7 separate regions of the Homo sapiens genome follow, and regions 1, 2, 3, 5, 6 and 7 are each reported to be linked to region 4. The links are microRNA targets in miRTarBase. Many come from high-throughput screens and were not tested one by one. Region 4 holds a microRNA gene; each other region holds the end of a gene's coding sequence. Distances are between the middles of the regions.

Region 1 (4,175 bases), 51 Mb from region 4:
CCCTAAGCTGTGCCTGGGAGATCCCTCCCTCCTCCTGGGGGCTTCCCCATTCCCTGGTTTGGTCTAAGCCGCAGTGGCAAGCATTCCAGAAAAATGCTAAGAGAAGCCTGGCTGAGTCATTTGATGCACAGCTCAGGAGGCAAAGAAAGGATGGTGATGAGACGCTGGTTCCAGTGGTGGCTGTGATGTGTGACCTCGAAGAACCTTCCAGTTCCCAAAAGGACAGCATGGCCATTGTTTTTTTCTTGGCTAGTGACTCTGCTGCAGCTTTCTGAGGACCTCTCAAAGCCCCACAGTCTCTGTTTCAACTACAGGAGAGAAAAGTTAGGGCTTGCTCCCCAGGGCCTTACGACTCTTCATGGCTAACGTGACAGTGCAGTATCATTTGGGAGAATTTTTTTAGTACAGTTCAGAGTCTGGAACAGTCTCCTTCCTCCTCTGTCTTTCCTGCCTTCTGACTTTCCATGGGGAAAGGAGGACATTTAGGAAGAGGGAACAGGTGAGGATTTCCAGTACCTTGCTGGTGTATTTTAATTTATTTAAATTTAGAGAAACAGTGGTCTAATCAGGCAGTAATTAATTCCCTCTTCATTAGGGGCCTTCATGTTTGCCTTTTGCATATGGATGAGCCACGGGTCACACTGTCCCTTTGAAGAGAGATCCTTGCTGAAGGTGAGAGCCCAGTGTGCTCTCCGGCACTTGAGCTCCTTCCCCTTCTGTGCCAATGCTTCTCTTTTCTCCCCACCCTCACCTGACAAGGACTAGATTCCTGTGGGGAAAGAAGGAAAGGTTAATGAAGCTTCCTATCCCACCCTCCTTGGATCTGGATCCCTCCCTCACGGCCCACAGTGTATACCATCCATGCCTCATCCTGTACCCTCAGGTTTTATCCAGCCCGCTCTCCCATCAGCCACCTGCTGGGATATCTTCATGCCCCCAGTGAGTTGACTCCTCAGAAGCTTGTTTGCCGGGCACCTCTGCTTTGAGTTGGTTCATCAATCCTTGGCCCAGCTCTGCTTCTTTCCCTTGTAGCAGTCCTTTTCTTAGGGAGTGTGACGCCCTGAATGCACACACTGCTCTAATCCTGAGAAATACACTGCCTCTTCCTGGCACTCAGCATTATGTGCTGCACAGGCTCAGCCACACTTCCCTCAGCTCACAGTAAAGCTCCCAACACCTAAAGCACACACCTACCAACACACAGACATTCCTAACCTAGCTTGAAAGATAAATGCATGGGGGCATATCCAGTCCAGAGCAGCCCAGGCCACCCTTTTGTACACTACATCATCCCTATCCTCCCTGGGGCCACCGCATTTCCAGGGAGCAAGTGGGGCACAGATTGGGGGAGGGGGGATAGATGGGACCTGGGTGGTTACCATAGCAATAGAGCCTAGCAACAGCTGAGAGGCTGATGTGTGGGTTTTCACAGGGCTGTTACAAGAGCCAAACCTAGAAATTGGGGACTGAGAGGTGACTGATCCCAGCTGGGCAGCCTGCATTCCCTCCCCAAAAACACCCCTTGATCCCACCCCCACACCCCTGCAGTGCCTCTCTCTGAGAGGGCAGAGTAGGGAAAGCTAACGAGTTAACCACAGGGCTTCTGATTCTGCACAGCTTTTGGGGGGCAGCTGTGGGTGGGGGCAGGTTAGGGAGCAAAGCTGAAAATAAACCAAGCAGGGCAGCTTCTTTCGGATGGCTGGCTCCCTCTCATCTTTTCTCCATTGCTCCATTTTTCTCTTCTCCTTTCCCCCTTCTCCCTCCGTCTGTCTTATCAGGTCTCTCTTCCGCCTTGATCCACCTCCTATCCTTCCATGTAACTTTCCTTTTCTTCTGTCTCCCTTTTTTTGGTCTCTCTTGACCCTCCCTGGCAAGGAATAAGTGAGCCACGATTTCTATTCTAGTTTCTCTCTTGTACCACTGCTCCTCGTCAGGATGGCTCCCTTCCATTTTGTCCCAAGTTAAAGCCCCAGTTGGCCCCCAGCTCCAGGTCAGAGGAGGGCAGGTGACTTAGGTCTAGAGGGGGTCCCCACCTCATCCTGTGCCTCCTCCTAGCTGCCCACCCCTCTCCTCCTCTCTACGGGGGTCAGAAGGCAGAACCAGGGGACTCGAGTATCTTGCAAAGGCTTTATTTGAAAATTTTGAAACTTACATCCCACAGTAATTCAAGATGATCACCACAAGAAGAAGAAAGAGATAATACAAAAATATATATCACAGCCTAGGAGCCAGGGAAGAAGGGAAGGAGGAAGGTGGAAAAACCAGTGAGAAGGAGGGAAGAACCTGAGGAGGGGGAAAGGGCAGGGAAGCAAAAGGAAGGAGAGTGGAAGGAAGGAGGGAGGAAAGGAGGGGACAGGAGGGAGTCCGGGAAGGGAAGGGTAGACTTGGAGGCAGAGCTCCCGATGGCCTTGAACCAGCTGACTCCGGTCCCTGGCAGCCTAGGTGGAGTTAGGGAGGCCCAAAGGGAGGCTGGGAAGGGAGGACTGGCTCAGGGGGCTCTGAAGTCCAGAGAATGGCACACACACAGACAGCCAGGACAGACAAGACAAAAGGGACTGTAGGAGAAAGGGAAGGGCAAATGGGAGTCCCTTTCTCATGTAGTGCAGCAGGCGACTCCCCAAAACCCATCTGTCAGAAAACAGATTTTAGCAGTGGGCTGGGGGTGAAGTCTGGGGCCTCACTACCCCATTCCCAAGGGGGAGCCCTCAGGGTGATGCCGGCATCCTTGGAGTAGGATGGGGAGACAGAGAAACAAATGGTGTGGAATGGGACGAGACCATGACCGATGAGGGCCCAAGGAGCCCCCAGCTCACCTCCCACCCACCTCTGGAGCAGCACGCAGGGGCTGCGGAAACGAGGTGGGTGGGTGTTCATGAGGGAGAGAGTGAGCACGCCGCACACCACCACAACATCAGGCCGGGAAACGCACATGAGAGGTAAAGTGTGCAGGAAACGCTGACCACTGAGTGAGCTGAGCACAGAATGTGGGAAGGAGAGAGTGCAAATGTGAGACGAGAGAACATGAGAGTCAGCTGAGCGGAGCGGTATGGACGGGGAGAGGGTGCAGGAGCGTGTGCAAATGGCCTGTGAAGGTGGAGGTGAGTGTGCAAGGCTTTCATGTGAGTGCACAAGGGTGGGGACAGGGACCCGAAGTCACAGATATGTGAGGCCCCCACCTGCAGGAGGGCGAGCAGATAGGATTGCCCGTGGGGCTGGGGAGTGTTCCGGGTGGTGTGCAAGGGGCAGGAGCCAGGAGCCCCTGTGGCCCCAGCTCCCCACAGCTGCCCCACCCTCAGTGGGATGGGGGCTGTGCCGGCCCCTTGGCCTCCTGCTTGGCTGCACCCCAACATTGGGGGCATCACAGATTCACCAGGGGAATCCTGAGAGGAAGAGGGAAAGGGCACAGTCAGGAACCAAGGGGTAGGCCAGAATAGAAGGGGAAGTTCAAGACAAAGAGGGGGAATCAAGGTTAAGAGGGCAGAGTTGTCTTAGACAAGGTGGCATGAGAAAAAACCAAAGAGGGCAGAGTTGGAGTTATGGGCAGCAGAGAATAGGACACAGATCCTGAGAGACTGGGAGAAGGAAGGGTGCCTCCCAGAGAGGAGCTGGTCCAGCCCCCTTGGGAGGGCCAGGGGCTGTGGGAGGCCACGCCTGCCTCCTCACTACCCATCCAGAGGGCACCCCCACCCCAGCTCTGAAGACCTAAGTTGCCTTCCCTCTTTGCCCTCCCATCCCATTGCCCCTGCCCTCACCGGTTCAACTGGAAGGCTGGAGCCCCCTTGGGGTGGGGCATCCCAGGCCGGGGTCCCCCTCGGGGCTCCTCATGGTCAGGGGTGGGGGTAGGTGAGTCCCCGAAGGCCCCCAGCACAGTGACTCCAGCCGGGGACAGGTCTGTCAGTGGCTGCTGGCTCTCCTCCTGCCTCAGGGCACCTTGCTGCCCTGAGGGTCTGCGTCGCTTCTGGCTGCGGTCCCAGCTGGGGTACCAGAGGAAAAGAGGTTCTCTTGCACACTCAAGTAGCCCCCATCCTGGGCCTGCACCAGTGGTCACCCCCAGCCTCGCCCAGTCACTCCCAACATCTTATAGCAGAGAAACTGGCCTTTAACAGTTCTCTCTACTAAATCCCCTGGGACTCTGTGCCCATAAAGCCACTTCCCCTGCCCTCTAGGGGAGCTTG
Region 2 (4,211 bases), not on the chromosome of region 4:
ACTTGAATTTTAGGAACCCTCAGTTCCTTTTTGAATGCTATGTTGTAATTACCAGTGACTCATTCATCTGTACTCAAGTTTTTGGATATAAATGAAGGTTAAATATGACTCCGGTTAATTTAATGCTTTAACTATACCATACCAACCACATCACTAATACACTGTCAAGATGCAATCTTCCTTTCTTACTAATTACATTAACTTGATGAGTCACTTTTCTTTAGTTATTGCTTATATTGCCTTTTAATATTTATCTTTGCTGAACTAATTCTCCCATCTTTTTAATAATTCATTTTAATTCCTGATTTTTAAATACTTAAAAGGGTTATAACAAAGGTTATTTTCTTTATACTTAGTCTGGATAGTACAAAAAAATTTCCATCATAAAATTCTTTTTTTTTTTAAAGGAATGATTGTGCTAGAAAATGAAACAATTTTTTTTTTTTTTTTTTTTTTTTTTTTTTTTTTGAGACAGAGTCTCACTCTGTTGCCCAGGCTGGAATGTAGTGGTGCAATCTCGGCTCACTGCAACCTCTGCCTCCCAGGTTCAAGCGATTCCCCTGCCTCAGCCTCCCGAGTAACTGGGATTACAGGTGCCCACCACCACGCCTGGCTAATTTTTGTATTTTTAGGAGAGTATTTGTATTTGTAATTCATGTATTTTCACCATGTTAGCCAGGCTGCTCTTGAATTTCTGACCTCAGGTGATCCACCCGCCTTGGCCTCCCAAAATGCTGGGATAACAGGTGTGAGCCACCACACCCAGCAATACAATTTTCAAAAGGAACCCCGTCAAGATATTCCTAGTTAAATATACACATAACCAAATGTACATTTGTATATTTTAGAGAAAATAACATAATTTTTGTTATTTTAATTGTAGCAACAGAGTCTAGCTATGTTGCCCAGGCTATTCTTCAACTCCTTAAGATGGCCTTAAGTTGCCTCAGCCTTCCAAAGTGCTGGGGTTACAGGCATGTAACTGCACCCAGTCTAGAGTTTTCTTAAATCTTTTTATTTATTTATTTTTGAGACAGGATCTCACTATGTCGCCTGGGCTGGTTTGAGACAGGATCTCACTATGTTGCCTGGGCTGGAGTGCAGTGGTGTGATTATGACTCACTGTACCCTCAAGCTCCCAGGTTCAAGTGATGCTCCTACCTAAGCCTTCTGAGTAGCTGGGTAGGGATTACATAGGTGTGCACCACCACACTCGACTAATTTTTGTATTTTTTGTAGAGATGGGTTTTCGCCATGTTGCCCAGGCTGGTCTTGAACTGGGCTCAAGCAGTCGAACCACCTCAGCCTTTCAAAGTGCTGGGATTACAGGCATGAGCCATGGAACTTAAATCATTTTTGAAACATAGTTAATAATGGCCTTCTCAAATTAAGTCAGCTAGTAGAAAAAAGTCTAACATTTTACATCGAGTCCAAAGCTAGTTTGGGGGAAAAGGCTTTTGATCTTTAAATGCCAAGGGGAAAGGTATTTTATCTGTCAAGAGATGATACAATTCAGTGGAATAAAATGTGTATCCACACAGATGACTTTTGCTTCTACCAATTTTATCTTTTATAAAACCCTGACATGGCCGGGTACAGGGGCTCCTGCCTATATCTCAGCACTTTGGGAGCCAACGGGGTAGGATCGCTTGAGCCCAGGAGTTTGAGACCAGCCTGGGCAACACAGTGAGACTTCATCTTTACAAGAATAAAATAAAAAAATTAGCCAGGCATGGTGGTGTACCTATGTAGTCCCAACTACTTGGGAGGCTAAGGTGGGAGGATCACTTGAGCCCCCAGAGGTTGAGGCTGCAGTGAGCCATAATTGTGCCACCATACTCCAGCCTGGGCGACAGAGACCCTGTCTCAAAACAAAACAGGCCGGGTCAGGGTGGCTCACGCCTGTAATCCCAGCACTTTGAGAGGCTGAAGCGGGAGGATTCCTTGAGCTCAGAAGTTCAGACCAGCCTGGGCAACATCAGACCCTGTCTCTTTTTTTTTTTTTAAAGTAAAACAAACAAAAACAAAAAAAAAACTCATGATCCTTTTGTGGTTCATAAGCATGATGATTGGGTATTCACACCCACGTGTGAGATGTGCCTCCCTCAAACCTTGTTACAACTTCAACCATTACCCATCTGACAGTAAAAAAAAAAAAAAAAAAAAGTAAAATTTTAAAAATCATGTCTTATTTCAGCATCTTATATTTTTAAAAACCAATATTTTGGTAGATGACAAATTTATACCATTAATAACTTTATTTTTTTTTCTTTCCTCAACTTTTGTTTTAGGTTCAGGGGATACCTGTGTAGGTTTGCTACATGGGTAAATTGTGTGTTGCTGGGGATTCGTGTACAAATGATTTTATCACCCAGGGAGTGAGCATAGTAACCAATAGCTAGTTTTTCGACCCTCGCCTTCCTCCGAATCTGCCCCTTCAAGGAGGCCCTGGTGTCTATTGTTCCCATCTTTGCGTTCATGTGTACTCAATGTTTAGCTCTCACTGATAAGTGAGAACATGTGGCATTAATCACTTTAAAACATAGTATGACAGATATCATTTTCTTACAGAGCATCAGATATTAATATGTATGGATCACTTTGTTAAATTAACAAAAATCATCTGAAAATCAGCACAATATTTCATTTATTTATTGTATAAGTTTGGCAAACAGCACAAAAATCCAGCAACATTTAAAACATATAAAAAAGTCAAATGCTAAACAGGACTAGGGATTTTTTTTTACATCATTAGAAATAACGAGTACACATTTTAAGATTCTGCAAAGCTAGCAAAATGAAGATGCTTGCCTTCTGAACATATACTACAAACACACATACAAAAAAACAATATAATTTATCTTTACAAAAATTACAGCCAAGCAATAGAAAAGAAGGATGTTAATGATGAAGATAGCAACACATATGTTTAGTACATATATCTTACACATTGAAATGCTACATCTTATACCCTGAAATGCCATGTGTAGAGAGCCAAGCAGAGTAAATTTAGGCTCATTACTGAGGTTAAGAATTATTTGAGAAGAATTTAATTCTTATATGTAACATATTCAGTTAAAACTTTCTATATAGGAGTTGCTAGAGGATGACAATGTATCCCATTATAGATCTGAGAAGTTGAGTCTTCTTTGTTGGCAGTATAAAATTTCTGACCAGTATCAAAATTCTGGTAAAACACAAATTGAAGGCATTTTCTAGTGTATGCAAACATTACAAGGGGCATCAATGAATGTAGAAGAAAATCGTAGATTTTTCACATCAAGTTTCTGCTGAGCTTTGTCAAACCAAATAGCTCAACTATAAGGCAAGAGAAAACAACTCCCTATAACAGATTAGTGGATCTTACCAAGTAAATATAGGAATTCAATCTTAGGGAAAAATTCCCTACATTAATAGATCTGAAACAGCTGGTCTTGAAACAAACATCTAGAAATTAACGAACATCTTGACATTCAGTCATTGGTTCAGAAGCGTGACAAACAATCTGTTGGTATATATTATTAAATTAACTTTTTGGAATCAGCACCAGTCCCCAAAACCTCAAATTATAATATTTAATCTTCATTAAAATATATTTTTTGTGCTACATTAACACGACCACAATTAAGTTAAAGAAAGCTGAATTTATTTAACTTATTGTATATGTTTATGTATACTAGGTAGTGACTTAAATTTCTTTTATTTACTTGTGCTTCTGTTTTGGGGCACTTTGATTGAAGAGAAATTCAATTCACAGGATTACATCTTGCTAAAGCATTCCTTAGCATTGGTCCAAACTTGAATTCCCTAAAAATAAAAATAAAAACTTTAAAATGTGAGTTTGGAAGGAATCTGAAAACCCAAGTACTTGGCTTAGTGGTACACTAAGTTTTGCTTTTTGGAATAATTAAGAAGTCGAGAAAATATGACACTATTTTGGGAAGTGGCTAATATAAGCAAATGTCTAATGCTTCTGAAAAGAGAAACAGAATCTCTAATACGAACTTATCTTCAAAATGGAAAAAGAACTCCTACAACTTGTTGGAAAACTGAGTTAATTCATTTCATATCACATACTCGAGTAATTTCTATTTGTAAATCAAACAAGTTTTCAGTCTTTTTTTTTTTTTGGAGATAGGGTCTCACTCTGTTACCCAGGCTGGAGTATAATCATGGCTCATTGCAGCCTTGACCTCCAGGGCTCAAGGGAT
Region 3 (4,211 bases), not on the chromosome of region 4:
AGCTCCAGCCTCAGAAAACACGAGAGAATTCATACAGGAGAGAGACCTTATCAGTGTAAGGAATGTGGGAAATCCTTCAACCAGAGCTCAGGCCTGAGCCAGCATCGGAAGATCCACACCCTAAAGAAACCTCACGAGTGCGATCTCTGTGGGAAAGCCTTTTGTCACAGGTCACACCTCATCCGACACCAGCGGATCCACACTGGGAAGAAACCATACAAATGCGATGAGTGCGGGAAGGCCTTCAGCCAGAGCTCCAACCTCATTGAGCACCGCAAGACCCACACTGGCGAGAAGCCCTACAAATGCCAGAAGTGTGGGAAAGCCTTCAGCCAGAGCTCCTCCCTCATTGAGCACCAGCGCATCCACACCGGTGAGAAGCCCTACGAGTGCTGTCAGTGTGGCAAGGCCTTTTGCCACAGCTCTGCGCTGATCCAGCACCAGAGAATCCACACCGGCAAGAAGCCCTACACCTGCGAGTGTGGCAAAGCCTTCCGGCACCGGTCAGCCCTCATTGAGCACTATAAAACCCACACCAGAGAGAAGCCCTACGTGTGCAATCTGTGCGGCAAGTCCTTCCGGGGGAGCTCGCACCTGATTCGCCATCAGAAGATTCATTCTGGGGAGAAGCTATAGAAAGAGGAGCCCACACAAAGCTTGAAAGCCTGTGCCAGATGGAGCCTTTATTCCACGTCGCGTGGTCTCCAAGACCCCACCTACCTCCCTGATGCTGAATGGAAACCTTCCCACCTAAGCGCTCTTGAACATCCCACTAGCAGGAAGGCCCTGTGTGGCCCTGGGCCAAGCACGCCAGCTCTCAGCAGGTTTTCTGCATGGAAGGGAAGGTGGGGTGATAGGGAGGGCAGCCAGAAAAGACAGCTGGCCTTCAGTTTCTCCTTCTTGCATTTGACTCCCAAGCCTACAGGATTTCATTTTGCCCTGTCTTCACATTTCCCAGAATCTAGAAGAATAAATGCCAAGAGGGAGAAAGTTGAATTAAACCCAGGAAAATATCAGAAGAACTCTTTAAAACAGGCTGCAGTCTGGCACTTTTAGAAGACAGAAACCACACTCACAGTCCAAAGCAGTAGAAGAAAAATGAATTCAAAAGTAGATGTGTCAGCAGCAAAGTAGAATTTTCTCACTGCGTTGGGCATTGGTGGGGACAACCAAAACAGGTCTGCAGAGCAAAGGCAGGTCTGGAGGGTGGGTCTTGAGATTGGGGATGAGGGTGGTGAGCCCCTGGGCGTGGCCTCTTAACCCTCTCCTTAGCCCTAGGGCAGTTTCCCTCAGACAGCTCTGTTACAGGAGGATAGAGATTTGATCCTGTTGGCCAGAGGATGTTTGACACCCAGCCGTGACTCAGCCTGGACACCGGACATGACTGCCCTCCAGGAATAACCCCTCCCTGAGACATAGTGTCCCCAAGACCACAGTGTGCCTTGGACATCAGCAGGGCCTGGGTCTGGTCTGTTCTGGCAATGATGCAGCCCTCCTGCCCCAGTGTCAGGGGACCTGGGAAGCTGGGTGGCTTGTTGGAGGAGGCTGTGTTCTAATCAGAAGGTCTGGGTTCAAGTCCTAGTTCCACCCCCTCCTACCTGGGTGAGCTTGAACAAGTCCTGTAACTTCCCCAGGCTCCATTCCCCCATCCAAGAGTTGGGGTAATGGGAACTGGCCACGTGCCTCTAAGGGTTGGTGCCAGGCTGTCATTCAGAACACAGCCACTGTGAAAGTGCTTTGGCAACTGTGAGCAGTCATGGTGACTGAGGACAGAGACCCAGAGTGACCCCTGCCCCACCCCTGTGCATTTCCACGGACTGGAGAGATGTTCCCGTCTGGTTTCTGAGCAGTGGGACCTCTCATTGAACAGGGCTTTCTCTCCCTCCACCCCTTGCAGCCTGGGCTGTGTATGCCTGCGGATGCAGTGTCCCACACAAGGACACTTCCTCTAGGATGCCATCCTGAGCCTCCTGTAGCAGCAGTGTCATTCTGCACTTCCACATTCTGTCTGTCTTCCCCGCCTGCCAACTAGGAGTTCACGTGGGGCTTGTTTAAACAGTACCATTGCTTGTGTCCCACCTGGACCAGTTCAGTCAGCCCCAGTGGTGGCATGTTTTAAAGCTCCCCAGGTGATTATAACTTCCTAGTGTGCAGCCAGGCTGTGGGCCCTGTGCTGGGCTTTTTTTTTTGAGATGGAGTGTTGCCCTGTTGCCAGGCTGGAATGCAGTGGCGTGATCTTGGCTTACTGCAAGCTCTGCCTCCTGGGTTCAAGCGATTCCCCTGCTTCAGCCTCCTGAGTAGCTGGGACTACAGGTGCGTGCCACCATGCCTGGCTAATTTTTTGTATTTTTAGTACAGACGGGGTTTCACCATGTTGGCCAGGATGGTCTCGATCTCTTGACCTCGTGATCTGCCCGCCTTGACCTCCCAAAGTGCCGGGATTACAGGCATGAGCCTCCACACCTGGCCCATGCTGGGTTTTTGTGCATCCCTCGACAGCTTCCAATGTCAGCCTGCTGGCTTTGGCTGAGCAGAGCTTGAAGGCCATTCTGTCTCAGTGCCCTCACTCCCTGCTCCCCGCACCCGGAGCCTCAGGGATGGGCTCAGGCTGATGGTCAGCTGGGCGCTTGGAAAGTGTTTGGCTGGGGCCTTGGGGATCTCTTTAGTCCTGGCTTCCCTTGGGCTCCTCAGAGCTAGTGGGGAAGGAGGCAGTCTAGGCTGTTTTGAAGTTTCCTAAACATTTATGGCTGGGCTAACATGAACTCATCATGGTAACACTGGGTATTTCAGCTGATCAGAAGCTCAGCATGGCCATTATGCCTAGTTTTGATGAATAAACATGGGAAAGCCATAACTGTTACTAAGTGGGTCTTGATAGGCCAGAGATTTCCAAATGACAGATATGATGGGCTGGAGAGGTCATGGTGGGAGTTCCAGCCATGCCTCTGTCCAGCCCCTGTCTTTGCTACGTATGTGAAACATTTAACATTTAACCAGCACTCCATTGTCCACCAGAACCCTCTGTGTAACCAGTTGGACTGACTGGATGGTGCCCTGGGCATTGCCTGCAAGTGGCCTGTCATTTCAGGCCTGTCTCTATCAAGAGTGAAGAGAGAATGCTAGGATGCAGTGGGGACAGCAGGCGGCATCAAGCAGGGGTCCCTGAAAGATCTACCTCCTCTTTACACCTGCCCCTCTTCCCCACCGTTATCATCTGGCAAATGTCTGTTACCTATCTTTGGTTTCTCCCTCCCCATCCTTCCTGCACACCCCAGCCAAATTGATTTTTAAAGCATCATTTTGCACAAGTCACCACTCTCCTTAAAACCAACTTTCAGGAGCTTTCCTGCACGTAAACCCTCGTTTCAGCCAACCTGGTTTACCCACTCTGAGCAAGCCGCATGGAGATCAGGCCGCCCCTGCCCACTCCAGCATCACTCCCAGCTCATAATTCTGTGCTGTTCTTGCATTTTGAAATGTGCACTTTCTCCTCCTCTCCCTCCCTCTCTCTTTCTAATTTTTGTGTAACGTGGAGATGAAGATCCCCCCTCTCTCCCAAGGGTTAACAGATAAACATGGTAAGACCAGGTTCTTTTTTGGAAGTATGACCAGAGCCTCATTCCCTCTGTTCAAATTCTTTCCTTGTTTTATTAGTTTTTTTTTTTTTTTTTTTTTTTTTGAGACAGAGTCTCACTGTCACCCAGGCTGGAGTGCAGTGGTGCGATCTTGGCTTGCTGCAACCTCTGCCTCCCGGGTTCAAGTGATTCTCCTGCCTCAGCCTCCTGAGTAGCTGGGATTACAGGCATGTGCCACCACGCCTGGCTAACTTTTGTATTTTTAGTAGAGATGGGGTTTCACCATGTTGGCCAGGCTGGTCTCGAACTCCTGACCTCCTGATCTGCCTGCCTTGGCCTCCTGAAGTGTTGGGATTACAGGCGTGAGCCATGTGCCCAGCCAGCTTATTAGATTTTTTTTTTTAAACTCTCTCATTCTATTTAGATTCTCAAACAGTGTAAAGTTATAAAAGATCATCCCTGGCAATATTTTAATCAATTATCTTTTAATTTAGTTGTTCTTTGTTTTTGTTGTCCTACCTTTTTTTTTCTTTTTTCTTTTTTCTTTTTTTGAGATGGAGTCTTGCTTTGTCACCCAGGCTGTAGTGCAGTGGGGCGATCTCGGCTTACTGCAAGCTCTACCTCCCAGGTTCAGAC
Region 4 (4,000 bases):
AAAAAAAAAGAAAATTTTTTTTTTCTTTTTTGCACTTCCTCAGCTGGCCATGGTGGTTCATGCCTGTAATTCCAGCACTTTGGGAGGCTGAGGCAGGAGGATCGCTGGAAGCCAGGAGTTTGAGAGTAGCCTGGGCAACAAAGCAAGACCCTGTCTGTATTTAAAAAAAGAAAAAATTGGTTGGGCACGGTGGCTTATGCCTGTAATTCCAACTTCCAACACTTTGGGAGGCTGAGGCGGGAGAATTGCTTGACCCCAGGAGTTTGAGACCAGGGTGGGCAACTTGGTGAAACCCATCTCTACTAAAAATACAAAAATTAACCAGGTGTGGTGGCACGTGCCTGTAGTGCCAGCTACTCAGGAGGCTGAGGTGGAAGGATCACTTAAGCCTGGGAGGTTGAGGCTGCAGTGAGCCATGATGTGCCACTGTACTCCAGCCTGGGTGACAGTGAGACCCTGATATGGACAAGATTAGCACATCCTCTGCACAAGAATGACATGCAAACTTGTGAAGTGTTCCATATTTTTAAAAATTAAAAAAAAAAAAATTTTTTTTAGGGACAGGATTTTGCTGTGTTGCCCAGGATGGTCATGAACTCCTGCCCTCAAGTGATCCTCCTGCGTCAGCCTTCGGAGTAGCTGGGATTACAGGCGCAAGCCACTGCCCCTGGCTGTGTGTTAAAAATCTAGTTAAGGCTGGGCAGGGTGGCTCACAACTGTAGTCTCAGCGCTTTTGGAGGCTGAGGTGGGCAGATTGCTTGAGCTCAGGAGTTCAAGACCAGCCTGGGCAATGTGGCAAAACCCTGTTTCTACAAAAATTACAGTCTGGCATGGTGGTGTGCACCTGTGGTCCCAGCTACTGGGGAGGTTGAGGTAGGAGGATTGCTTGAGCCCAGGAGGTTTAGGCTGCAGTGAGCTGTGATTATGATTGCACCACTGCACTCTAGTCTGGGCAACAGAGCAAGACTCTGTCTCCAAAAAAAAAGTTATATATTGCCAAATTGTGCTCCAAAAAGGTTATATGTGTTTATCCTTATGCTAACCATATATGAGACTTTCCTAAATCAGCCCTCTTTCTCCGTTATCTCAGCTGGAGAAGCGACTGGAGGAGTGGTTGGGGAGGACATTGCCTGGCAGTGACTGGACACCCAATGCCCAGTTTATCACCCGTTCTTGGCTTCGGGATGGCCTCAAGCCACGCTGCATAACCCGAGACCTCAAATGGGGAACCCCTGTACCCTTAGAAGGTTTTGAAGACAAGGTAAAAACCCTTTTTTATTCATATCATTCAGCCTTAGTGTTGAAACCCTGGGCTAGCAGAGTAGACTGCTGATTATGTCTTGTTTCAGTTTGAGACTTTGGATTGGTCCCTAACATGTTTACCTCCTTCTGACCTCCAGGTATTCTATGTCTGGTTTGATGCCACTATTGGCTATCTGTCCATCACAGCCAACTACACAGACCAGTGGGAGAGATGGTGGAAGAACCCAGAGCAAGTGAGCAGTTCTTGGTTAGGCTGTGCATGGGGAGGGTAGGCGGTAGGGTGTGGGTGTTAGGGTTGGGTGTCTGGTCTTCCTTGGGCCTTTGAAGGAGGTCTCAGGAAATCTCTCCTAACCACATTCCCCTAGGTGGACCTGTATCAGTTCATGGCCAAAGACAATGTTCCTTTCCATAGCTTAGTCTTTCCTTGCTCAGCCCTAGGAGCTGAGGATAACTATACCTTGGTCAGCCACCTCATTGCTACAGGTAAGTACCCTGGAAGACTACTGATGGGGTGTTCATAGGAAATGAGGGGTGAGGCAGTACTTGGAAAAAGATCTTGGAGAGCTGCTATCTTGAGTTAGGAGTTGAGCTGAAATAGGAAATAATTAAAATGAGAACTCAACCTAGAGAAACGAACAAGAACCTGAAGAAAGCAAAAGTCTAAAGCTAAAACTCTTTAGTAGATATAAGCAAAGAGAAAAAAGGGCCAGAATGGATAGGAAGGGACTCCCAAAATCTGAGCATACCAGCCCCTTAAGGAGAAATGTTGCTAGACACCCATAGTTGAGGTTAGAAAGAGGAAAGAAGGAAGAGTTAGTGGGCTAGAGAGGGGAAGGATGTGATGTGAGCAGATGGTTCTCACTCATTCTCCTCTGTCCAGAGTACCTGAACTATGAGGATGGGAAATTCTCTAAGAGCCGCGGTGTGGGAGTGTTTGGGGACATGGCCCAGGACACGGGGATCCCTGCTGACATCTGGCGCTTCTATCTGCTGTACATTCGGCCTGAGGGCCAGGACAGTGCTTTCTCCTGGACGGACCTGCTGCTGAAGAATAATTCTGAGCTGCTTAACAACCTGGGCAACTTCATCAACAGGTAGGACTTGGTAAGGGGTCAGAGTTAGCAGTGAGCTGGGGTGGGGCTCATTTTCCCTCAGGAGATGGGAATGTGGAGAGAACTAGAAAATGGGCAGGAGGCTGTGAGGACACTGTGGAAAGTTGATTTCTATTAATTGGGATCTGTTCCTAGCACATACTAGGCTATGTGTGCTTGATGGAACAGTTAGCTGTAGAGATGTGATTTAGCAAAGTTGGTTATAAAGTGGGTTTTTGTAAATTGTTTCCTTATTACTGTTCTTTGTAGAATTGAAGATGTATTCTCTCCCAGCAAAATAGTTCACCTGCAGATCATTGAAAAGTTTGGCTGAAGAAAGGGGTTATTTTGGTGTGGGGGTAGGAGGCTTCTGTGGGCTGGGCATGGTGGCTTACATTTGTAATCCCAGCACTTTGGGAGGCTGAGGCAGGAGGATCACTTGAGGCCGGGAGTTCAAGACTTGCCTGACCAACATAATGAATCTCCCATCTCTACAAAAAGAATCAGCCAGGCGTGGTGGCGCACACCTGTAGTCCCAGCCACTCAGGATGCTGAGGCGGGATGGTCTCTTGAACTTGGGAGATTGAGGCTGCAGTGGAGCAGTACTCGTACCCCTACACTCCAGCCTTGGCAAAAGAGGGAGATCCTGTCTCAAAAAAAAAAAAAAAAAAAGGCTTCTGCTATACTCTTCAGAGTTCAGAGTTTTTGTTACCTTAGGCTCACATTCTATCATTGGTGCCTATCTCAGCTCTTCTGCAATCTAAAGCAGTATTCTCCAGAATTTAGGATTCTTTAGTCACACTCTCTGAGCCCTGGACCCTTATAGGTCAGTCCTGCTACTCACTTTCAGCTTTGGTAATTAACCACATTTAATAAATAGTCCTTACCTACAGGAGTTCGAGACCAGCCTGGCCAACCTGGTGAAACCCCGTCTCCACTAAAAATACAAAAAGTAGCCGGGCGTGGTGGCGCACATCTGTAATCCCAGCTACTCAAGAGGTTGAGGCAGGAGAATCACTTGAACCCGGGAGGCAAAGGTTGCAGTGAGCCAAGATCATGCCACTGTGCTCCAGCCTGGGCAACAGAGTGAGAATCCTCAAAAAAAAAAAAAATTAAAAAAAAAAAAAAGTACTTGCCTAGAGTGTTTGTTTGATAGCAGTTAACACATACTCAGCTTGGTCATTTTGAGTAATGACTTTTTTTTTTTTTTTTTGAGATGGAGTTTCTCTCTTGTTGCCCAGGCTGGAGTGCAGTGGCGCGATCTTGGCTCACTGCAACCTCCGCCTCCCGGGTTCAAGCAATTCTCCTGCCTCAGCCTCCAGAGTAGCTGGGATTACAGGTGCACACCACCACGCCCGGCTAATTTTTTGCATTTTTAGTAGAGACGAGGTTTCACCATGGCCAGGCCAGGCTGGTCTTGAACTTCTGACCTCAGGTGATCTGCCCACCTCGGCCTCCCAGAGTGCTGGGATTTTAGGCGTGAGCCACTGCGCCCGGCCGAGTAATGACTTCTTAAAAATAAGAGGTACAGTTGTTTAACTTAATCAGGTTTCTTATGTGCAGAGTCAGATTCTTAGGGGAGAGAAAGAGTAAATAATTAGGCCTTGTCTACTAGCTTGAGGGAGCCAGGAGTTACCTGTTCCAGG
Region 5 (4,211 bases), not on the chromosome of region 4:
GAGTGCAAAATGTGCAGTATCTCTCTGTCTGATCTGTCAATTAACTCTGGGTCTGGCCCACCACTTTGGGGGTGGTCCTGAGCAAAGCAGCCTCTAGCTCTTGATTCCCTCCAATAGAAAGCATGTTCCGGGCTCTGTAAAGATCTTAGCAGACAGCAGCTGCCAACTGTGATGCCAAGATGTGTGTGGGGTGTGAGTGTGGAGTTTTGTGTGTGAGACTGTGTGCACATTTGCATTAACGGACAGACACAAGGGTGTTTGTGAAGGCAAAGTATGCATGTGCGGGTCTCTGAGCTTGTACACACAGTGCACGTGTGTGTGATTGTGTGGCCATGAGTAATTTTGGTGACCAGAGTTATACAGGAGAATAGTTGTGGAGCCCAAATCTCTGGAGTTGTTCCCTCTTTCCTGCACCCAAAAAAGTTCAGAGAAATGTGTGCCCAGATGGAAAGAGATCCCCAGAGAGTCTAAGGAAGTGCCATCAAAGGACACATCTTTCCTAAGTTTACGTCTTTTTCCTAAGTGCCTGTTGAGGGAGGAAGATGGTTTAGTTCTTTCCCATGACCACCTGCTTTTTACCCTCAAAAACCACCATTTTGAGCCGGGCGCAGGGGCTTATGCCTGTAATTCCAGCACTTTGGGAGGCCAAGGCGGGCAGATTACCTGAGGTCAGGAGTTTGAGACCAGCCTGGCTAACATGGTGAAACCCCGTCTCTACTAAAAATACAAAAATTAGCCGGGTGTGGTGGTGCATGCCTGTAATCCCAGCTATTCGGGGGGCTGAGGCAGGAGAATCACTTGAACCCGGGAGGCAGAGGTTGCAGTGAGCCGAGATCATGCCACTGCACTCCAGCCTAGGCGACAAAGTGAGATTAGTCTGAAAAAACAAACAAACAAACAAACAAACAAACAAAACACTATTTTGGGCCAAGAGGCAGTGGCTCATGCTTGTAATCGAGCACTTTTCGAAGCTGGGGCAGGAGGATGGTTTTAGCCCAGGAGTTCGAGACCAGTCTGGGTAAGATAACGAGACCACATCTCTATAACAAAAATTTTTTTTAATATTAGCCAGGCATGGTGGCATGTGCCTGTAGTCCCAGCTACTAGGGAGGCTACAGTGACAAGACTGCTTGAACCCAGGAAGTTGAGTCTGCAGTGAGCTGTGATTGTGCCACTGCACTCCAGCCTGGGCGACAGAGAGATCCCATCTCAAAAACAACAACAACATCATTTCCCATCACAGTAAGAAATAAAATCCCTAGGGCACAAAGGCTGAGGAAATTCTAGTCATGGTCAATGGTTCCAAAAGAGAATTCCACATTTCTGGAAAATAGTTTATTAATTCATTATAAGGACAGATACATGAATCAATGCCTTAGCTTAACACTAAAGAGTATCATATTTGTAAGGAGAAAAAAAAAACGCTGGAAGGATAATTAAATAGTACAGCATAAACTAAATACAGACAAATAAATGAGCAAGTACTGATTACACTTGTCATGCATCAAGAAAAGGAAGATTTTTAATTGAGACTCAGAAAACTTAAGGCATCAATGGTAGGTGACAAAGGGATTAATACCCTGTAAAAGGCCAATAGATTCTTTTCTAATAAAAATACTGCTACAAAGACACAAACCTAACACTTCCAAATTACCCAGAGCCCAAATCATATATAGTGCTAGTGAGAAATGGCCACTTTCTTATCAACTGTGAGTTATAGGCAGATACCAGATTTATTACTTATTTGCTTTTGAGAAACAATTTTCCACCCAACCTAATGGGTTATAAATTGTCTCATTTGCAGCTATTTAATTTAAACCAGAACCTCAGTGCCTGTTAAACAAGAACATGAAAAATGACTATGTGGTATAATGCTAAGAGCCTACTGTTAAAACAGCCATTTAATTCAGGGCAGTTTTTTTTTCTTCTTTAAAAAAAAAAAATCAAACCAGCAAAATAAAATGAGGCTTTTGACCTTCAGAGCAATGATGAAACATACACAGTGGTGTTAGCCACAGCAGCGCTGAATGCTACAGAAATACTACAAGTGACAATTCTGTCTTTAACGAGATACAAAACCAACATTAATAATCTTTAGTGTTATCATAGGCTGGCTGAAGGAGGGGGAGGAGGTGGAAACGTAGGTGCAGACATCAACAGTGAGTGACACCCGAGTATAATAAACACAGATGCTTTCAGGGTTTGAGGAAGCCGCAACTGTGCTGAGAGACATTCCACCATTTAAAAAAAAAAAAAAAAAAAAGGAAAAATGGACTGGTTATTTCGAATTTGGCCCAGAAGGCAGAGTTAACTCTTGATGTGCCAATCAGACATCATTAGGGAGTAAAGACCCTAACATTCTATGCTCCTATGAGAGGGCTGAGGTGAAAAACCAAATAAATGACATTGTTTTCACTACACAGAAAATAGAAGTCAAGCTTGTCCCTGTGCGGCAGGTGAACAGAAAATGACTTGAGGATTCAATTTAAAGAAAAAACAAACTGAAATGAGCTACCCCTTTTCCTGTGCAAAGACCTCCTTGCCAGCACCCCAGAGGGTGAGATTCCTGTCATCCCCAATCCAGATCAAGTCAAGCCTCACAGGGTGGGAAGGGCCTCCCTGAACTCTCACTCCCCTTCTCTTCCTTTAGCTTCTTCTGGAAGAGAGGCCCAAATCATCTCCATCCAGTAAACTTGCCCCCCTGCATAGAAGGGAGGGCATCTTTTTATTCTGAGCCTCTGGATCACAGCCCCCTTCCCTGTCTCAAACATTCCCCTCTATGACTTGGATCCATCCATGGAGAACCCTTGGATCCCAATCCCAAAGGCAAGATGCAGGGAAGCCAGAAGATCTTCTCCACACCCGCACTGGGCGTGGGTGGGCTGCCTGGGGCAGGGCAAGCAGAAGCACTGAGTGAAGAGGAGGCAGGAGGATGGCAGGCGAGTGCGCGGCAGCCGCGGATACAGGAAGGGCACGGGGGCCTTGAAGCAGACATGAGGTAGTCACGTTGTTAGAGAAGGATGCAGAGTTTGAACCCAGGCAGGAGAACAAGATGACATAGTCTGGGAGAGGTGTGAGAGATAGCAGAGGAAGGAAAACAGGAGAGAGGAAAGGAAAGAGTATCTGGGAGCAGGAGAAGGGCACTGGTGCTGGGAGAGCGAGGTGACTGGGAGACAGAACACTAGAGCAGCCAGGGGCAAGGAAGGAGGGGAAGAGTGAGAGAAAGCGGATTTTCAAAACCAGGCACTTCCCAGATTACAAAATTAAATGCAGAGTTGCTCGGAGGGGAGCCAGGGCCACCCTCTCTATTTGGGCAATAAGGAGCTGGGAGGTGATGCAGCTGAAATGCCAGGCATTCAGAGCCTGCTTGCACCCAACCCAGCCAGACAGGAGAATGGGCTGGGACTGTCTTTGTCAGACAGGCATTGGAGACACTCTCAGAGTGTGTAATAAAAGGCTGGGCGATGGAGGTGGGGGCCCACAGGGCTGGGGACTGACCACTGTGGGGCACCGTTCTGACCTGGAGGACCAATCAGGCTGTAGTGACCACTGCCTGGGCCACGGTTTCCCAGCTCAACAACCAGTACGCATACATGCACTTCACACATGTGCACATCACATGTAGCTATGTCTCGTATGTCTTTCACATGTCACATGTGTATCACAAAGAGTATGGGGGGAGTGAATAATCCATGTTTTCCTCTCCCCTCAGCCAAAGCAACTTAGGAAGCTCCAAAGGGCTTGATGATGTATCTACAGGCACACATGTGGACATACACGGCCACAGGTATCGCATCCTATGTGATCCATACCTGCCTGCCCCAAACCACATCCTCTGGGAAGAGCTAGGCAGAGGAGGAGACCGGGGATCTGGGCAGGCCTGGGCTGGCTCCTAGAGGGCAGGGGGATTTGAGCTGGCAGCTATCTCCAGGGGTCTCCTCTAGCACCTCGCCTGGCTGGAGGTCCGGGTAGGAGCAGGAAGCACTGGCTGCCTCTGGCAAGCAGGTAAGTCTGTCTGGCCCGGGGGCTGCCAGCTCACACCCTCCCAACTCCCTGTCCAGCCAGGCTGCCCCCTGCCCTGGATCCCCAACACCCGAGATGAGATCAGGAGCCTCTGGAGGCAGGGGGTCCTCAGGCTCCAGGTCTTGGAGATGGAGGTCAGGGTTCCCGTTAGATGCACTAAAGTCAGAGTGGACAATGACTTCAGCCTC
Region 6 (4,211 bases), not on the chromosome of region 4:
CTTTGGAGAGCTTGCCCTGGTCACCAACAAACCCAGAGCTGCCTCAGCTTATGCAGTTGGAGATGTCAAATGCTTAGGTAAGAAAAGTTCTTTATGCATTAATATTCTTTTTCTAACATGTAATATTTTTTTCCCATCAGCAAGCCTTGACATATTCTGCCATCTTTTACTGCTGTCTAGGCCTAGGCAGTTTATGTGACCAACCAGAGATGGATGAATGGATGCTTTCAGCAAACATTTCTGAGTACTGATGACAGCCTGTGAGCAAGACAGGCATGCAGGTTCTTTAGCCGTATGAAAAGAACTGATGTCCAGGGCTGTGGGAGAATGGGGAGAACAGGAGCTGCTGGACTCTGTAAAGTCTCTAACCTGGATGACAGTCTTCTGAATTCATATAGAAACATCCCTTTTTGCAAGTGGCTGGTGTCCCAAGGCGTAATCTCATACAACATGAATGGGTATGTTTAGGAAAAGGTTTGCATGAGGGAAATGGCTTGAATTCATTCTCTCCCTCACCTCTTTTTAACAATGCAGTTATGGATGTACAAGCATTCGAGAGGCTTCTGGGGCCCTGCATGGACATCATGAAGAGGAACATCTCACACTATGAGGAACAGCTGGTGAAGATGTTTGGCTCCAGCGTGGATCTGGGCAACCTCGGGCAGTAGGTGTGCCACACCCCAGAGCCTTCTTAGTGTGACACCAAAACCTTCTGGTCAGCCACAGAACACATACAGAAAACAGACATGACAGAACTGTTCCTGCCGTTGCCGCCACTGCTGCCATTGCTGTGGTTATGGGCATTTAGAAAACTTGAAAGTCAGCACTAAAGGATGGGCAGAGGTTCAACCCACACCTCCACTTTGCTTCTGAAGGCCCATTCATTAGACCACTTGTAAAGATTACTCCAACCCAGTTTTTATATCTTTGGTTCAAAACGGCATGTCTCTCCAACAATTTAAGTGCCTGATACAAAGTCCAAAGTATAAACATGCTCCTTTCCTCTCTTGCTGCTACTCTTGCTTTTGGAAGTTACCACAGGGTCTGCAGAAACCTGTTGTATAACTGTAGACACTCTCTAATGGTTCTCAAAGGAGGAAATGTAGCCTTCAGTCTCCTCATTTGTCCTTTGAGGAAGTCCACATTTGTTCACAGTTGCAGCCTTTGGTTTTACAGTGGGAAATGGTGGTGGATGATATGGACATATGTAGCCCAGTGGCATTGTACTTTCTGCTGACAGCTGCACACATTACAGCTGTCTCCAAACCCACAGTGATGCTTAGGGAAAGACCCTGCTCAGGACCCAGCAGGTCAGCACCCCAGAGCAGACTGATAGGTCCGTGGGACCCATGTTAGAGCAGAAAATTTGGGCTCAGCACATTTTACTGTTAGTAGAGAGCCAGGAAACGTTTTCTGGGTTGGGGATTTTGTGGGATTTTTTAATTTTTTTAGTAGGTTTTGTTTAACCTCTGTGCAGTTTGTATGAATGAATTGCTATACATTTATAAGGAGCCAGGGTCTGGAGGGTTGCTATCACTTTGTCCAGCCCAAATACCTTCCTGGGCAACTCCTACCATTTGTTTGCAGTTGCCTCTACTAGCTGATGGCAGTATGCTGGAAAGAGGTTGTACTATAAAGAGAGTTCTTTCCTTCTACTCCAGAGTTGTTGTGTAGCTTTGCCATTGAACCGATCAATTTTTAAACTCTTTAAAGAAGCAGCAGCTATTTTTTTGAAATTAAAGAAAATTCTCAGGCCAGGCTCAATGGCTCATGCCTATAATTGTAGTGCTTTGGGAGGCTGAGCTGGGAGGATCGCTTAAGACCAGCCTAGGCAACAGAGTGAGATCCTGTCTCTACAAAAACAAAAATTTTTTTTTTGTTTTCTTTTTGAGACGGAGTTTCGCTCTTGTTGCCCAGGCTGGAGTGCAATGGTGCGGTCTTGGCTCACCGCAACCTCCGCCTCCCAGATTAAAGTGATTCTCCTGCCTCAACCTCCTGAGTAGCTGGGATTACAGGCATGCGCCACCATGCCGGGCGAATTTTGTATTTTTAATAGAGACAGGGTTTCTCTGTGTTGGTCAGGCTGGTCTCAAACTCCCAACCTCAGGTGATCCGCCCACCTCAGCCTCTCAGAGTGCTGGGATTACAGATGTGAGCCACTGCACCTGGCAAAAAAAAAATTTTTTTTTAATTTGTCAGGTGTGGTGATGCATGCATGTAGTCCCAAATACTTAGGAGGCTGAGGTGGAAGGATCACTTGAGCCCAGGAGGTCAAGGCAACAGTGAGCTGTGATCATGCCACTGCACTCCAGTCTGGGTGACACAGTGAGACCCTGTCTCTTAAAAAAAAAAAAAGAAAGAAAAAAAATTATTCTTTAGGTAATTTCACTTGGACATATTCATGTATATGGAGTTTGTCAGCTGACTCAGGCATTTACCCTAAAGATCAAATCTGTTTTCAAAAATTGGCATTGGCCAGGCACGGTGACCCACACCTGTAATCCCAGCACTTTGGGAGGCCGAGGCGGGCGGATCACGAGGTCAGGGGTTCAAGACCAGCCTGGCCAACATAGTGAAACCCCGTCTCTACTAAAAATACAAAAAATTAGCTGGGCATGGTGGTGGGCGCCTGTAATCCCAGCTACTTGAGAGGCTCAGGCAGGAGAATCGCTTGAACCTGGGAGTGGAGGTTGCAGTGAGCCGAGATTGCACCATTGTATTCCACCCCGGGTGACAGTGCAAGACTCCATCTCAAAAAAAAAAAAAAAATTTGGCATCATTTACAATTTCATAGAATTACTGTGAAGGCCTTTCTAGTTGAGATGTTGGGGTATTTGGGATTCTAATTGTTAACCCCAGAAGAAGGTAATTTAGCTTGTATTTATTTAAAACCCATTTAGCCTTTTACTTATATCTGGTAGAATTCCAGTGATCATCCTAATAAGGTATATTTCAGAATAATTTTTTTTTCCTTCAGAATAACTTAGAATCAGATGCTATAAGGGCTCCTAGGAGCAGTGTGAAATTTCCGTAAAGATAAATTTGAATGTTGTAACCAAGTTTATATTAAACCAAGAGGCCATTTCCAATATGATTTTTTGTTTCTTTTTAACTTGTTAAGTCCCTAAGAGATTACATGCTAGGGCTTGAGTCATTTCTATTGTAGATAATGATGGCCCACACAGTCACCTTCAACTATCCACATAAGCTAGGCTTTCCGCTTTTGCCACGGACAGTGTGACCAAGATATTTCCAGAGTAAATAACCCACCACAACCTTGGTAATTCCTCTTTTCTTCTTAAGCTCCAGGAAGCGAAAGCAGAAGGACTCTTTTCAGACTGCCCTCTGTAGCCTACATTGCAGCTTTCCAAAACAGGCAGCTAGCACTGGGAAAGCCCATGTGGTGACCCCATATTTTTCTGAGGTTCTTCTTTTCCATGGTGTTACTTTATTATCAGAAAGTAAATTCAGAAAACAGGTCTTGCCCTTAGCAGACAAGAACCACACCAGTTTCTTGTAAAGGTAACGGATACATTGGGATTCAGGAGTGACACAGAGGTCCAGCCCCAGAACTTGTAAGGATTTTGTTTGAACACTGAGCAGATGCCTCCTCCCTGCCACCCATCACACTAGTTAGGGCTGGCCATGAATTCTATGCCAGAGTCACTCCTGCAGTCTGCTAGGGATGGGCCTTCTTATCCCACTCTCGCACACATCCCAGTCTAGTCTTTGCCTTCACAGAGTCCTCCTTGACACCCCTGACTTAATGATAGTTGCTGTTTTGGAGTAGAATTGATCAGGTTTAAGTCATCCTGCTCAGGTTGGGCATAGTGGCTCATGCCTGTAATCTCAGCACTTTGGGAAGCCAAAGTGGGAGGATTGCTTGAGCCCAGGAGTTCCAAACCATCCTGGGCAACAGAGGGAGACCCTGTCTCTACCAAGAAAAAAAAAAAAAAAAAAAGTTAAAAAAACAATTAGCTGGACCTGGTGGTGCACACTCAGTAGGCTGAGGTGAAAGGATTCCTTTAACCTGGGAGACTGAAGCTGCAGTGAGCCATGATCGTGCCACTGCACTCCAGTCTGGGGGACAAAGTGGGACCCTATCTCAAAAAAAAAAAAAAAAAGTCATCCTCCTCCAACTACTGATTGACATATGGATCATCAGTTCAGACCCTCACTGCATACAGGATCCCTAGAGGGTTCTATTTAAT
Region 7 (4,211 bases), not on the chromosome of region 4:
AGTGAACAGAGATACTAGTCAGGATGCTGAGATGCTGGCAGGGCAGACAGCATGGGGACTGTGCTTTCTGGCCTATTCCATGCGGGCTTCCCAAACAACTTCCTACACTCTTTTTATGCGTGCCTATTTCCTAATTTTTCAGTTTATAAACTAAACCTATTTAGTGCTTGTAAAAATGAGTTGAGGCCGCCAGTGGCTCACGCCTGTAATCCCAGCATTTTGGGAGGCTGAGGTGGGCCGATCACTTGAGGTCAGGAGTTCGAGACCAGCCTGACCAACACGGTGAAACCCCACCTCTACTAAAAGATACAAAAATTAGCTGGGCGTGGTGGCGCATGCGTGTGGTCCCAGCTACTTGGGAGGCTGAGGTGGGAGAATCACTTGAACCTGGGAGGCGGAGGTTGCAGTGAGCAGAGTTCCCACCACTGCACTCCAGCCTGGGCAACAGAGTGAAACTCCACCTAAAAAAAAAAAAAATGAGTTTAGCATAAGAAGGCAGATAAGATGAAGCTATTTTCATTACTGTCTTCTACAATGCTGGAGAGTGGAGAGCAGACTAGTCCCAATCCTTTATTTTGTGCACGGGGAAAGTGAGAACTAGAGATGTTCAACGACTTACAGTCTCCACAGCAAGATCTGGGTCCCTGTACCGCTTAGTGGTGAAGGTCAGGCTAGGACCCATCTATCGCGTCTCCAAGGTCTGTACTCTGGTGTGAGATGATTCAGGCAGCAGGACTGAATGTGAGTTGGGTGCCTTAAAACCCAATACCTGGGATAGAATGTGGTACATACAGAATTCACAGTTTGAAGCAGTTGTTTGTTTTTCCCTACTGAGAAGATTCTGTGATAATAATGGGACTTGGGAGCATTCTGGATTGATTCCAAAGAGCAACAGGGAAATTTTAGTTAGAAAAGGTGGTAAAAATATAGGAGCAAGTGGACTATTTCCTAGGTTTTCATTTTTGTACAAATTTTCATTTTCCTTCTACTGTAGGCGAAATGAGATGCCAGTTGCGTGTTTAGGTGCCAGTGGCCTGCTACACTGATACAACTGAGAGTTTCTGTTTAATATCCTGGCTGTTTCTTAATCTCCAGCTAAATCTGGAGCAAGCTATACAGGCCACACCACATGCTTTGGAAATGATTTGAGCTCTCTTAGAAAATCAAGGTGATGAACAGTCTCAAGGAGGCAGGGAAGAGTGCACAAAAGGTGGGAGAGGTGGTGACCAAGAAGGTTTGTGACCACAGACTGTCCAGGAGATGAGAAAAGATCCCTCTTAGGCCACCAAGGATGCTTGGATTAGGTAACAAGTAGGCCAAGAACGGTCCTTCTGCAGGGGACACGGATGGCAGGTCTCATGAAGTAAGGTTTTGCTGGTTTATCCTATGCTGACCCAACCCAGTGTTCAAATAAAATTCTGAATAACTGTGCTCTGCAGCTTGGGAGATGTTTTATGCATTTAGACCCCAGAGCAGACATTAGAGATATTTTGAAAAGTAAAGGTAGTCTAGTTAGCAAAGTGAACTATCACAGAGGACTAGAGACAGCGATGCCCATGTACATTTCTATTTTTCTTTTGATGGGTTGATGGAGATGCACTCCTGGCTTTTGCAGTTATTTCTGCACATGCTGCATTCAACTAAAAGACCTGCTCAGGTCCCCAAATGTCTTTTTAAAGAAGACAAATCAGGGAGAGATAGGTGGGAAAATGGGTACATGTGGAAGAAGAAAAACATACAGGGTACTTTCTTGGGTTGTTTGACTGCTGTCTTTGTTCTCCAATAAAATGATAGGAGGCAGAAGTGAGAGAAAGTTGTTTCTTTCCCTGTGCGGTTGGTATCTTTCAAATGCATCTTGTCTAGCCTTCAGTGATTTTTCTTCTTCCTGCCACCTTTGCAGTTTTTGGTTCGGGTTTTCCTGATGTTCTAGCCCTGATCACAGACCCCCAGGGAACCACCCTCTTCCCACTGCCCCCAACACCAGTCTTCCCCCCTCTGCAGACCTGAATTACTTCAAGGGGAAGTCGATTAATGGCTTATGTTAATGAAAGAAGCTTTTCACTTAGTCTGAGCTCTGCGAGGGATCATTAGGAAGGGGAGGGGGAGGCAGGGGGGCCTCAGGGGAGTTAGGACATCTCTGAAAATAATGATCAGTGGAAACAAAAGCTTTCCCTTCCTGGAGGCCCCAAGCTATGGCTTGCCTGAAAATGCCTATAATAAGTAACAAGAATAAACCTCTATCGAGGCAGTTAAAAAAGGAATATTGTTTAAATATGGGATTTATTCCTGGCTTCTGGTCATTGGCTGCAAGTCTACAAGGAAGGTTCAGATTTCAAAGAAGAGGTGTAAAAAGGACGAGCCTGGGGGAAGGGGAGCCTGAGAGGCGAGAAGGTCATGTAGCTGACAGCGGGCCCGTGGGAATGTCCTGGCTGACCTCTTTCTTCCAAGCCCAGGCAGATTCCAGAGGTAAAATGAGCAGTCAAACAACCACAGGGAGATGGTCTGTCTGTGAGAGGGGCCCTCAGGAGTGCAGGCGGGCTGTGATTTTACAGGGAGCCAGGAGCGCATTGAGCAGTGGGCCAGCCCTGGGGAAGCTAGAGGGACAAACCCTCTTTGCTGATGCCAGCTGGGAAGCTGAATGTCAACTGCGGGCCAGGTGGGGTGGGGGTCCTGGCGGGCCAGTCCCACAGCAAAGAGGTACTGGAAAGAGGTACCATTTTGTATTTCCAAATGGCTCTGGGTGTGAATTTCTTCCTAATTTGCAATTTACAATTTAGCTATCCACTGGCAATCTCTAGACTAGAGACAGTGTGGGTAAGTGGCAGAATCAGGTAGGCAGACAGTTTTTAAGAAGCAGCTTTCTTTCCCTGAATCTGCTGTCTGGCAAGACCAAGGGCAGCTGAAGGAGTGGGAGTGGTAAATGGAGGCAGAAGCTCTCTCTCGGATCTCTGATTTTCAAACATTCTGAACCACATGCCACAGTCACAGATACTGTTACAGTTCTTTTTCCTCACACTTTTCAGAGGTTTAATTGGGCTTTCTGACAGAAATCTTGCTTATGCAGCACACTCAGATTTTTGCTGCTAATTGCAGAGCTTTTATTTTTCTTGTCAGCGGTCACCTTAATTGTCTTGCCCCAAAGAGCCCCACCCAGCCCTGTTTGGTGCCACATGGTTTTCTTTGAAAGGCTCTGCTATAACAGTGAGAATTACTGGGTGTCCTTTTCTAAGTAAACAGGAAATATCACTCTGTTAGAAAAAAAAAAAAAAAGAATCCCTCTTCTCAGCACAAATGCAATAATGTGCCGACTTATATTTCCTGTTAATGTTAAATTAGGAGCAGGATCTATTTCTTACACCAGCCCAGTCTTCTTAGCTTCTAAACTTTCAATGAGCAGAACCCCAGGGAAGCCTGGCTGCCTAGGGCATTTTAGAAATGCTTCCACTGATTTGCGGGAGGCAGTAGCATCACAGTTTGGAAAGATAACAATGCATTCAAACAAAACAAAACAAACAAACAACCTGTGCAAAATCACAAAGGGGCAAGATGATATGCTTCTAAATTTTAAGTCACAGCACGTGTTTATGTTCTGATACTTGATCACCTTTCTATATAGGAAAACTCTGAAGCCTTGAGTCAGGAAGGAGAATTGACCCAGGGCAGGAGGAAGAAACGCAGGAAGGATGGCTTTTTTTCCCATTACATCAGAACCTGGGTTCGTGTGTCAGGCAGGCACAGCCCAACGAGTCCTCCACACACGAGCACAGTAGAAGCCAGCAGGATGGGGATTGATTTGGTGATGCTGACCAGAGAGCCAAATATTAAGTTTCCCAGGACGGCTGCTGCCTTGCATAGCGCATTTAAGAAGCCAAAGCCTGTTGCCCTGCAAAGGAAAGAGACATGAACAAGGTTGAGAAAATGCCTCCCCATGATTCCAACTTTAGACCAAAAGATCCTAGATTTTCAATGATCTTCCCTCAGATTGTGTTGTATATCAGTGGAGCAAATCAATGCTTGTTAGCAAATCTGGGAGTAGAGAATCCTAGCTGTTGGTATTGTTCCTCCAGCCCTCTGTTGACTTTCTTACCATAGCTTCCATTGACTCTTACTCTGCCTGTAAGTCCCAATGTATTGTGAACAGAAAGAGAGAAAAAATTGTAGGGAGTACGAAACATCTCTAGTGGTTTAACGTTGTTGGAAGGAAGGGTCTT

The links. Region 4 holds the annotated microRNA hsa-miR-6758-5p (UAGAGAGGGGAAGGAUGUGAUGU, at 2,086-2,108, shown strand). A microRNA usually pairs through its seed, bases 2 to 8, with sites in the 3' UTR of a target mRNA and lowers its output. Matches are read on the target gene's strand: a 7mer-m8 pairs with bases 2 to 8, a 7mer-A1 pairs with bases 2 to 7 and ends in A, and an 8mer does both.
Region 1: miRTarBase lists PIANP as a target of hsa-miR-6758-5p. Seed matches in the 3' UTR shown: 7mer-m8 at 3,597-3,603.
Region 2: the mRNA of SNX4 is a reported target of hsa-miR-6758-5p. Seed matches in the 3' UTR shown: 7mer-A1 at 2,988-2,994.
Region 3: the mRNA of ZNF70 is a reported target of hsa-miR-6758-5p. Seed matches in the 3' UTR shown: 7mer-m8 at 3,503-3,509 and 7mer-m8 at 3,548-3,554.
Region 5: miRTarBase lists IGDCC4 as a target of hsa-miR-6758-5p. Seed matches in the 3' UTR shown: 7mer-m8 at 3,103-3,109 and 7mer-m8 at 2,662-2,668.
Region 6: miRTarBase lists PRKAR2A as a target of hsa-miR-6758-5p. Seed matches in the 3' UTR shown: 7mer-m8 at 1,002-1,008 and 7mer-A1 at 1,075-1,081.
Region 7: the mRNA of SV2C is a reported target of hsa-miR-6758-5p. The part of its 3' UTR that is shown has no 7-base or 8-base seed match.

Annotation. Positions count from the first base shown.
Region 1 is chr12:6,691,678-6,695,852 of GRCh38, forward strand. PIANP (PILR alpha associated neural protein) reads right to left here. Exons shown (of 5, transcript NM_001244014.2): 5 at 2,114-3,974. The coding sequence ends at 3,749. Among named protein-coding and RNA genes, the nearest start is that of ZNF384, 4.4 kb to the left of the region's middle.
Region 2 is chr3:125,444,020-125,448,230 of GRCh38, forward strand. SNX4 (sorting nexin 4) reads right to left here. Exons shown (of 14, transcript NM_003794.4): 14 at 2,631-3,807. The coding sequence ends at 3,760. It overlaps LOC124906351 (small nucleolar RNA U13), which reads left to right and starts at 2,042; the gene lies at 2,042-2,144.
Region 3 is chr22:23,740,225-23,744,435 of GRCh38, reverse strand. It overlaps ZNF70 (zinc finger protein 70), which reads left to right. Exons shown (of 2, transcript NM_021916.4): 2 at 1-4,211. The coding sequence ends at 636. Among named protein-coding and RNA genes, the nearest start is that of ZNF70, 8.8 kb to the left of the region's middle.
Region 4 is chr12:57,510,608-57,514,607 of GRCh38, forward strand. It overlaps MIR6758 (microRNA 6758), which reads left to right and starts at 2,081; the gene lies at 2,081-2,143. MARS1 (methionyl-tRNA synthetase 1) reads left to right here. Exons shown (of 21, transcript NM_004990.4): 12 at 1,091-1,261; 13 at 1,401-1,496; 14 at 1,629-1,746; 15 at 2,144-2,357. It also overlaps the pseudogene LOC124903093.
Region 5 is chr15:65,380,164-65,384,374 of GRCh38, forward strand. IGDCC4 (immunoglobulin superfamily DCC subclass member 4) reads right to left here. Exons shown (of 20, transcript NM_020962.3): 20 at 1,321-4,211. The coding sequence ends at 3,846. Among named protein-coding and RNA genes, the nearest start is that of IGDCC3, 4.3 kb to the left of the region's middle.
Region 6 is chr3:48,748,042-48,752,252 of GRCh38, reverse strand. It overlaps PRKAR2A (protein kinase cAMP-dependent type II regulatory subunit alpha), which reads left to right. Exons shown (of 11, transcript NM_004157.4): 10 at 1-77; 11 at 535-4,211. The coding sequence ends at 668. Among named protein-coding and RNA genes, the nearest start is that of IP6K2, 33 kb to the right of the region's middle.
Region 7 is chr5:76,325,036-76,329,246 of GRCh38, reverse strand. It overlaps SV2C (synaptic vesicle glycoprotein 2C), which reads right to left. Exons shown (of 13, transcript NM_014979.4): 13 at 1-3,883. The coding sequence ends at 3,700. Among named protein-coding and RNA genes, the nearest start is that of SV2C-AS2, 16 kb to the right of the region's middle. RefSeq lists an enhancer at 3,316-3,815.